Linked DNA regions of Homo sapiens. The protein of the gene in region 1 interacts with the protein of each later gene in a pairwise test. Each region holds a gene or a part of one and is shown in the gene's direction. Other genes may lie near its edges.

Region 1 (3,656 bases):
AGCCAGAACGCAGTGGCACAGTCACAGCTCACAGCAGCCTCTACCTCCAGGGCTCAAACAATCCTCCTACCTCAGCCCCTGAGTAGCTGGGACTACAGACATGTGTGCCACACCTGCCTGGCTAATTCTTCCTATTTTTCACAGAGACAGCATCTCACTTTGTTGCCCAGGCTGATCTCAAACTCCTGGGCTCAAGTGATCCTCCCACCTTGGCCTCCCAAAGTGCTGGGATTATAGACATGGGCCACCATGCCTGGCCAGTTTCCCTTTCTTTAACTTCTGTCAAATCTAAGCTGCAAACAGAATGAGACAGAAACAGCATTTGGAGAGCACTTTCAAGATAAAATGGTTCTAATGATGTTGTCTCGTGAGTCCTGGGTATAAGTTGAGTCTTCCAGGATTACGTTAGCCCCAGAAAAGGCTTATTGTGCTTATTGGGACCATGCCCACCTCACATAAACATCTTTCAGACTTTTATAAACATCTGGGGCCTCTTCAGAAAGACTGCTAAAGCTTCGATCTTTCGTTCCTTCTCAGAAAAGGAATCTCTTTGCGTTCTTTGACATGGCCTACCAAGGCTTTGCCAGTGGTGATGGTGATAAGGATGCCTGGGCTGTGCGCCACTTCATCGAACAGGGCATTAATGTTTGCCTCTGCCAATCATATGCCAAGAACATGGGCTTATATGGTAAGCTACAGCATCCAGCATGACACATGCTCTCATGCTGGGAGAGAATGCCACGAGGGCATAGAGCTTGTGGGTGTGTGTGTGTGTGTGTGTGTGTGTGTGTCCATCCATGTCCATGTCCCTCCCTACCCTAAGATGAAAGACCAGTATCGTAGATTTTACTGATTTTCTTAGCCATATATTCTTCGGTGTCCTTAAGTTTTTCCAGCAAAGGAAACTGATTACTGCTTCTCTAAACAAAAAGTAACAAATCCGTGAGCCAAGAAGATAGATACAATAAAAAATACCTTTGAATACTCTGAGTACTCAAAACTTCCTTGTGCCTCAGTTCACCACTCTGGTTGTTGAAAGCTTTTTATTTATAATAAAGTTATTTTGGGGTCCTTTGGATGGAAACAGATAATACGTAGCAAATACACTCATGATTTGCTTTAGCACATTAGATAGTAGAAGTAGAAGACGAGATCCATTTTTGTCTTTCAGGTGAGCGTGTAGGAGCCTTCACTATGGTCTGCAAAGATGCGGATGAAGCCAAAAGGGTAGAGTCACAGTTGAAGATCTTGATCCGTCCCATGTATTCCAACCCTCCCCTCAATGGGGCCCGGATTGCTGCTGCCATTCTGAACACCCCAGATTTGCGAAAACAATGGTAAAGGTTTATGCCACTCCCCAGCCACCTACCTGTTCCCACCACTGCTCCTTCAAAGTTAGTTTTTAATTGACCTCTAGTGATATACAGTACCCCATAGATTCCATATGTGGAAGGCAGGGAAGGAAGCAAAAAATGTGCATTCCTTTTTTAAAAAATTAAGGCCGGGCACAGTGGCTCACGCCTGTAATCGCAGCACTTTGGGAGGCCGAGGCAGGTGGATCACCTGAGGTCGGGAGTTCGAGACCAGCCTGACCAACATGGAGAAACCCCGTCTCTACTGAAAATACAAAATTAGCCGGATGTGGTGGTGCATGCCTGTAATCCCAGCTACTCGGGAGGATGAGGCAGGAGAATTACTTGAACCTGGGAGGCGAAGGCTGCAGTGAGCCGAGATTGCGCCATTGCACTCCAGCCTGGGCAACAAGAGCAAAACTCCGTCTCAATCTATATATATAGATAGATAGATAGATTGGTTGAGACAGGGTCTTGCTCTGTCACCCAGTCTGGAGTGCAGTGTTGCAATCCTAACTCACTGTAACTTTGTACTCCTGGCCTCAAGCAGTCCTCCAGCCTCAGCCTCCCGAGTATTTGTTAGCACTTTGAACCAAGTTAATTGATATTTCTCTGTAAGAGGCAGTCATAATTTTTAAATGGTAGTTCCTTTTATTCCGTCATCTCCGTGTTAAGTAGAACCTGCTTTCCCCTAAAATCAGTTTCAAATTAAGTACCTTACATAGGAAAACTTCCTTAAAAACATCATATTTTTGTTTGTGTCCTAATAATTGCTAGCATTGAATCCGTATTTTTGCATATGTTTGTATTTTATTGTAGAGACAGGGTCTTGCTGTCTTGCCCAGGCTGGTCTCCTCAAACTCCTGGGCTCAAATGATCCTCCCACCACAGACTCCCTAAGTGCTGGGATTGCAGGTGTGAGCCACTGCACTCAGCTTGTTTTTTATTATCTGTACTATCTGACTCTCAACATCTGTTCTCTGAATTAGTGTTACTAAATTTTTTTGACCACAATCCACATAAGAAATATATTTAAGTCTGGGCACAGTGGCTCACACCTGTAATCCCAACACTTTGGGAGGCTGAGGTGGAAAGATCGTTTGAGACAAGCCTGGGCAACATACTGAAACCCCATCTATAAAATTTTAAAAATATATATTTTACATCATGACCTTGAACATATTATATACTTATATGTGTATATAACTGAAACTGTCTTCCAGACTCAATACTAAAGGCTTCATGTGCTTTACTCGAGTTTTTTGTTTTGTTTTGTTTTTTGTTTTTTTTTAAACAGTCTTGCTGTGTCACCCAGGCTAGAGTGCAGTGGCACAATCACTGCAACCTCCACCTCCTAGGCTCTAGCAATTCTCGTGCCTCAGCCTCCCGAGTAGCTGGGATCACAGGTGTGCACAACGAGACCCAGCTAATTTTTTTTTTTTTTTTTGAGACGGAGTCTCGCTCTGTCGCCCAGGCTGGAGTGCAGTGGCGGGATCTCGGCTCACTGCAAGCTCCGCCTCCCGGGTTCACGCCATTCTCCTGCCTCAGCCTCCCAAGTACCTGGGACTACAGGCGCCCGCCACTACGCCCGGCTAATTTTTTGTATTTTTAGTAGAGACGGGGTTTCGCCATGTTGGCCAGGCTGTTCTCAAACTCCTGGCATCAAGTGAACCACCTGCCTCGGCCTCCCAAAGTGCTAGGATTACAGGCGTGAGCCACCAAGCCCAGCCTCCACTCCAATATTTTCTAAATGCCAACTGCATCTTACTAAGTTGAATTTAACATACTAAGCCAGGTAAGGTGGCTCACACCTATAATCCCAGCATGCATTTTGGGAGGCCAAGGCAGGTGGATCCCTTGAACCCAGGAGTTGGAGACCAGCCTGGGCAACATAGCAAGACTGTGTCTCTATTAAAATAAAAGAAAATAAAAAAATAAAAAATAAAAAAATTAACCTACCAATGGGTCATGACACATAATTTAGAAAACACTGCTGTAGAAAGGGGTTGGCAAACTGTTCTGAGAGTCAATCCAGTTTGCCCCCTATTCTTGTAAATAAAGTTTTATTGGAACACAGCTGTACCCATTTGTTTATGAATTTTGTATAGCTACTTCTTTGCTGCCATGGCCGAGTGAGCAGTTGTAGAAGGCAGAGACCATATGGCCTATAAAGCCTAAAATAATTACTGTTTGGCCATTTACAGAAAGAATGCCAACCCCTACTCTATGAGTTCATAAAACCATGATGCCTGTGGAAGGTGTGATTTGTTATATGAGTTTATCGTATATTTGTTATATGAGCTG
Region 2 (3,345 bases), on another chromosome or scaffold:
AGGTGCCTCGAGTCTTTATTGGTAAAGATTGTATAGGCGGATGCAGTGATCTAGTCTCTTTGCAACAGAGTGGGGAACTGCTGACGCGGCTAAAGCAGATTGGAGCTCTGCAGTAACCACAGGTGAGTGGCAGGTGAGGTGCTGGGCCAGGAACATGGGAGACCGTGGAATTCTTCTGTCGTGGTTTGTTATACTGTATGACAGCATTCTGGTTGGGGGAAGAAATGATTTGGGGTGAGTTGAGGAATGGTGATGTCAATCACTTATGAATTTCACACTTTACAAAGAGATCGTGTCAATGAGAGAAATCCTTTCACTCAAGCTTCATTTAAGAAATATTTATTAAGCATGTGCCAGACACATGAGAATATAATGATGCATAAAATGATAACCTGGAACTTATATTTTAGAGAGGTAGACAGATCAAAAACAAGCAAATCCTGAAATAGAATAGAATAATGTGACAGAATATGTCATGGGGTGGGGAGAAAATTGAGCTAACATGGTAAGGGAGGGCCTTTCTCAGGAAGGGTTGAGCTGAGACCTGGTTAACAAGGGGACTGCTATGCAGAGATGAAGCAGAAGAGCTTTTCAGGCAGAGGGAATAGCAAGTGCAAAGGCTCTGAGGTGGCAACAGGTAAGGGATGTTCGTGGAACAGAAAGAAAGCAGGAATAGAGTGAATGAAGTGCAGTGAAAAGGAAGAATAGCGAGAAAGGTGGGCAGGGGCCAGAGCACCCAGGCCATGGTAAACAATTTGGATTTATTCAAAACGCAATGTGAAACACAGGTCATTTTGGCTTTACCTGTGTTCACTTGGCAAATCAACTCTATTTAATTGGCTTCCCAAAAGCCAAAACAAAGTTTTCTAAAATCAGTAACCTAAAGGAGATCTTTGGCTCTGTGGAAAACCACAGGGCGATGAACATTTCAGAAGGGAACCGTGATGGTTTTGGAGTCTGAGCTCCTCCCTCCCCCAGTTCCCCAGCACAGCTAGCGCTAGCTAGCTCCCAAGCAGGCCAATTCAGAGACCTGTACCCAGAGAGATGTAAATGCTGCTTTAGTTGAGGGAGAAATGAATGGTTCTTTAACCAAAATGTTCTTGGAGGGGTATCTATTGCCTGCTAATTAATAACTCATTTCTTGGGCAATGAGTATACATTATTTGTGATGGTTACTCAGCATAGCAACAGAAGGGGGAAAAAGGTCTGAAAAAATACCACTGATTTCTCTGAAATGAAATAGTCAATGCTATAAATCTTCTAATCAGAATTCTACGATATCATCACAGCAGGTGCACCCTATGTCTGTCTGAGTTCACTTCCTGGCCTTACCACTGGTACTAAAAGCACTCAAACCCAATTAATGGTTTCCTATTCTGGGACATGTTTAGCAATTTAGGCTTAGATTAAGAATGAGAGAAGATGGGAAATGTTATTTCTCCAACTGCTTCTATTTTGGTGTGGGCATTAGAGTCCCCCATATTCAGAAAGTCTCCTTATTTGCATTTGGCCTTTTCCTTCAGTGTTCTATGCTGTCAGTATTTTACTGGCAGCTGCATCTCAAGGCCATCTGCAACAGAGTGTGTTTAAATGGCAGGTGTAAGTGTTCTGGTAATGAGAGAAAGGAAGGATTTTGCCTTACAAGGAGATCCCTTCTTTCTTTCCTGGCAGAACAGGCCCCATGCTGACGTCCCTCCTCAAGAGCTGGATGGCATTGCAAATGATGACAGCACTTCTGGTGGATGAATTTGGGGGCACAAACAGCTTTTTTCCTCTTTTGGCTCAGTATTTAAAAGTGGACCAACTTGCTCTTAATCACAGGGCCAAGAAGGTTGACGGGCCATCTTGGTTTTCTTCTGGATGTGCTCTTTGGTTTTCAGAAGACTGTGACAAGTTCTGGCCCAGGATTCGCTCACTGACCCTCAATTGTCCTCTTTGGCATGCGTTTCTTACTGTTCTCCATGTGTCGGCATGTCTCTACCTCTAAGCCAGTGTTTTTCAACTATGTTTATCCAGACTCCTTCTCCACAATGATGAATCCACAGTTGGTTATCTGCTACTGCCCATTAGCTAAAATCATTTTGCTGCTTGACTTTATGGAGTTTGTATTATGAAATCAGTGGGTATTTTGAATGTGTTCTTTCTAACTACATGCATCTCTCCACTCAACTCCACCCCATCCCATCCCACCTTGAAAATCACTGCTCTGAACCAGTGTTCTCCACCTTGTCCTCCACAGATCTCATAGGAAATGTTCAACAATTCTGTGAAAGGTCACAGGACCCAATTGGAGAAATCATATGAAAAGCATAGTTGGTCTTGGTGTCATATGGATCAGAGGCACAAGTGCAGAGGCTGTGGTCATGCGGAACACTCTGTTATTTAAGATGGCTATCCAGATAATCCTGAACACTGTGTATTTATTTTATTTAGACTACCAGCAAAGATTAAAGCATGAAATGTAAAACATCTGATAAAACTTACAGCCCCCTACACCAAGAGTGTATCTGTGAAAGAGCTCCTACACTTTGAAAACTTAAGAATCCCTTATCATGAAGTTTGCCTGTTCTAGAATTGTAAGATTGTTAATTTCCTTCAATCTCTAGTGACAACACTTAATTTCTTTTCTAATAAAAAAAACCTATAGATGATTCAGTGATTTTTGTCCAATTCATTTGCATGTTCTCAAGACATTAAGGAATGTTATGCGAAATACACTAACTTAAAACTGTGTTTATATTTGGCCCTGCCATTATAAATAAAGACACGTGCTGCTGTCACTCACTGAGTACAAATGGCTGATATAATTTTGAAATTTCATATTGAAATAAATGCCAGCCCTGGCTTACTGAATAATGCTTAGGGTTTAATAACAGTCTTTTTCATTTCATATTCCTTTTTGCCATTTCCCACTTAAGGCCCTTGTACTTCTCGCTTCTTTCTTTTGTGGGCCCTAACCACTCCCTTCAACCAGGATTGCTATGATAATTGTTCAGTTTACACCAGGATTGCTATGGATAATTGTTCAGTTTACACACTGCACAATATGAAAGCCCTCCCACCGGAGGTTATAGTATCTGATCCACTCTGGACCACTTGCCTGCACTTTCACACTTCTTTGTCCATGTTCATTGTGTTTCTTTCTCCTGAGATGCCTTTTCTTCTTTGTTTTACTTTGAAACTCCTCCTCGTTCAAGGCCTGATTTACAGATCATTTCCCCTATATTTTCTCTCTCCTCTCATGGCCTTTTGACTGAAAAATCATCGTTCCCTCTTCTGGAATTCAAAAACACTGTGCATGTAGATACTCTACAGCTCTTATCAGGCTATGTTGTAGTTAATCAT
Region 3 (3,656 bases), on another chromosome or scaffold:
GTCAAATCAAGCCAGTTTTCTTTGTTGTTGTTAACATATCATAGCTTTATTCAGTAACGGAGTAGAATTTTTAATACAGAGAAAATGAAGTACCTGAGAATGATAAATAAGTTTACCACCCAGTTAACCACTGTTACTACTTCATAAAAAAAGTACTACATGTCAGTAAATTCAAGAAGAAATGCACAATATGAAAAATGAAAACCTTCCCCTCTTTACCTTCCGTAATAATTCCTCTCCCAGAATGATTTTTAATGCCTCTAAAAGGTAAAAGTATCTTCTCTGGAGCCTGACTCCTGAGTTTGAGTTCCATTTCTATTCCTTACTTCCTGTGACATTTAATTTTTGGCAAGATGCTTTTTCATTGGTAAAATAGGGATAAGAATATCTATAATGAGGCCGGGCAAGGTGGCTCACGCCTGTAATCCCAGCACTTGGGGAGGCCGAGGCGGGTAGGTCACGAGGTCAGGCGTTCAAGACCATCCTGGCTAACACGGTGAAACCCCGTCTCTACTAAAAATACAAAAGAATTAGCTGGGCGTGGTAGCGGGCGCCTGTAGTCCCAGCTACTTGGGAGGCTGAGGCAGTAGAGTGGCATGAACCTGGGAGGCGGAGCTTGCAGTGAGCCGAGATAGCGCCACGCACTCCAGCCTGGGCAACAGTGCAAGACTCTGTCTAAAAAAAAAAAAAATCTATAATGCTGTTGTGTAGATTAAGTGTGTTTATATGTGAAAAGCATCTAAAGCAGTCCTTAGCATATTTAAGTGTTACGTATCTGCTGGCTAGTATACCAGTGGGTATATATGCTTGAAAATTTTATACAGTCATTTACACACTGGTCTGTATTCAACTTCTGTGTACCCATAAAATTTTTTTTAAGTGATATAGTAGGTGCGTATATTTATGGGGTACATGAGATATTTTGATACATGCATACAATGCAAAATAATCACAGCAGGGTAGATAGGATATCCATTGTCTTCAAGCATTTATCATTTGTTATAAACATTCTAGTTATGCTCTTTTAGTTGGTATAAAATGTGCAATAAATTATTGTTGACTATAATCATCCTATTGTGCTATCAAATACTAGATCCTATTCACTCTATGTTTTTGTACTAATTAAGCATCCCCGCCCCTCCCCTGCCACCACACACCCCACAGCTCTTCCCAGCCTCTCGTAACCATCTCTATTTTCTACCTCCATGAGTTCAGTTGTTTCAATTTTTAGCTTATCATGGAGCTCTTTTGAATATAAATCTACCTTATTCTTTTATATCAGTGTGTATAGTCTATTAATTTTTTAGACAGATCCTCTATTGGCATTTAGTTTGTTTTCAGTTTTTTACTCTTCCAAACAGTGTTACAATGGAGATATTTGCATAGATATATTCGCGTACTTGTGGGAATAATTTCTAAAAGATAAGTCAAAAGGTATATGTGTCTTTAATTTTGGTATATCTTGCTGTAATGCCTTAGTAGCTAGCTGTTTTCCCCACTATAATCCTGTCTGAAATTGTTATCCCTTCCTGTGGCTTTCAGTTTGGTACCTACCAAATTTTTTGCCAAACTGCATTTAGAAAGGAAATGCTAATCCTCACTGGTAGATCACAGGATTACTAGTTCACAAAGGCAGGTGAGATTGCAGCCTTCCCTCAAAGGGAACCACATTTGACCTGCAATTTAGCCTTAGCAAGGAGTTACATAACAATGATGCTATTGCCTCTGGTTGTCAAGCCTTGACCTGTCTCTGAAGTTGTTTTGTAATCAAGGTTTTAATGGCAAATATAGGGAAAGAACAATTATGAATTTTGAAAACGTTAGTCTGGGTTTATGAGAAACTCCCTTTTATGCTAAAATGAGAGCACAGCTAAAATGGCTGTGTCATCTGACCAGAGGCCTAGAAATCTAGAGTTGCTCTAGTAACTGTAAAGGAGTCATTTCTTCCTGCCTCTATGTTTATGAAACATAGAGTTTTAAGATCTAAGGACTTTTTGAGGCTTATTTGGTGTCTTGAATAATTTTATATTTCTTCTGGCTATATGTTGGCATATATGTATCCCATTTTGCAAGTAAATATTTACATTTCAGCATAAATGTGTCATTACTGATTTTAAACTGATTTTGAAAGATATTTTGTATGTGCAATTATGGTATAACGAAATCCAGTAGGAAGTCATAAGTTCTAGAATTGTGATAATAGTCTACTGTTAAACCAATCCTGTTTTTTTATGTTTTCAGTGGTTAACATTTAGGCATATTGGATATGAGGCATTTTGATGAGCAAATATGTATCTCATGCCCCTGCCTCATAGACAGTATACTCTAGACAATGTGTGGTCATATTACTCACTAATTAATACGTGAAGTTAATTGCTGCCTCCTTTTCTTTCTTTTTTTTTTTTTTGAGACGGAGTCTCGCTCTGTCGCCCAGGCTGGAGTGCAGTGGCGGGATCTCGGCTCACTGCAAGCTCCGCCTCCCGGGTTCACGCCATTCTCCTGCCTCAGCCTCCCAAGTAGCTGGGACTACAGGCGCCCGCCACTACGCCCGGCTAATTTTTTGTATTTTTAGTAGAGACGGGGTTTCAGCGTTTTAGCCGGGATGGTCTCGATCTCCTGACCTCGTGATCCGCCCGCCTCGGCCTCACAAAGTGCTGGGATTACAGGCGTGAGCCACCGCGCCCGGCCCTCCTTTTCTTGACTCAGATTCACACTCCACAGTCTTTCCAGGAGCTAGATGGATGGTATTATCCAGCCATTGTCCTACAAGCCTAAAGCCAGGTGGAAAACCACCATCCTCACAGCAGGTGTCAAGTATTTTGGTTTAGAAACTCTTTCCAGATGATGTTCATCCTCATAGTAAAGAAAGTAATTATGACAAGGAGTGATGTTGATAACATAAAAAAAATAACAAAAAATCTGCTAAGCCATCTTTACTGTTTTTACAGGATAGACCAAAGCCCAGCAGAATTACTAATATAAGCATTCAAACTGCTTACAGAGGGTTTCAAGCATGATAATTTGTGAAGTCAACATGTATAGTAAACAAAACATATTTTAAGTGTGTTCATTATGGAGCTAATTGATAAGATGTCATTAAAAATAATAATGCTCATGGCATTTGTGTTAGGAACTATCAGCAGCAGTCCATCTTTAAATTTAAAAAGAACAGAGGCTATTCTCAAACTGAGAGCTTACCTTTTTGTTTTATTCTGTTTCTGTTGGAGCTGTGCTCTGTACTTTATACATGTTATTTCAATAATTCTTGTCCACAGAGTTTTCTAGGCAGCAACTCTCTGTGCACAATTTCAGCTAGAAACGCCATGACCTTCCCAGTAAATTTGAGACAGAAGCAAATTTGTAAGGAATCCTAACTGGGCAAAACTTGATATGCATAAATGCCTAATATGTATCTACATAGATATATCTATAGATAAATCTTCAACATTTACTCTGACTTTTATAGGATGATACAAGTTGTGGATTAAATTTTTTTTTTTTTTTTTTGAGACGGAGTCTCGCTTTGTCACCCAGCCTGGAGTGCAGTGGCGCGACCTTGGCTCACTGCAAGCTCCACCTCCCGGGTTCACGCCATTCTCCTGCCTCAGCTTCCCGAATAGCTGGGACTACAGGCGCCCGCCACTATGCCCGGCTAA

Evidence for each region.
Region 2: the proteins of GOT2 (region 1) and GLRX interact in a two-hybrid assay, tested with the Homo sapiens proteins (one large-scale study listed by BioGRID and IntAct).
Region 3: the proteins of GOT2 (region 1) and THOC7 interact in a two-hybrid assay, tested with the Homo sapiens proteins (one large-scale study listed by BioGRID and IntAct).

The regions. Positions count from the first base shown.
Region 1 is NC_000016.10:58,713,695-58,717,350, reverse strand, and holds part of GOT2 (aspartate aminotransferase, mitochondrial isoform 1 precursor), read left to right. Parts: intron 1-537; coding exon 538-688; intron 689-1,171; coding exon 1,172-1,337; intron 1,338-3,656. UniProt on the Homo sapiens protein: Catalyzes the irreversible transamination of the L-tryptophan metabolite L-kynurenine to form kynurenic acid (KA). As a member of the malate-aspartate shuttle, it has a key role in the intracellular NAD(H) redox balance.
Region 2 is NC_000005.10:95,813,284-95,816,628, reverse strand, and holds the end of GLRX (glutaredoxin-1), read left to right. Parts: intron 1-2; coding exon 3-116; 3' UTR 117-122; exon of another isoform or gene 123-133; intron 134-1,671; exon of another isoform or gene 1,672-2,239; 3' UTR 2,240-2,780; downstream 2,781-3,345. UniProt on the Homo sapiens protein: Has a glutathione-disulfide oxidoreductase activity in the presence of NADPH and glutathione reductase. Reduces low molecular weight disulfides and proteins.
Region 3 is NC_000003.12:63,853,759-63,857,414, reverse strand, and holds part of THOC7 (THO complex subunit 7), read left to right. Parts: intron 1-3,656. UniProt on the Homo sapiens protein: Component of the THO subcomplex of the TREX complex which is thought to couple mRNA transcription, processing and nuclear export, and which specifically associates with spliced mRNA and not with unspliced pre-mRNA.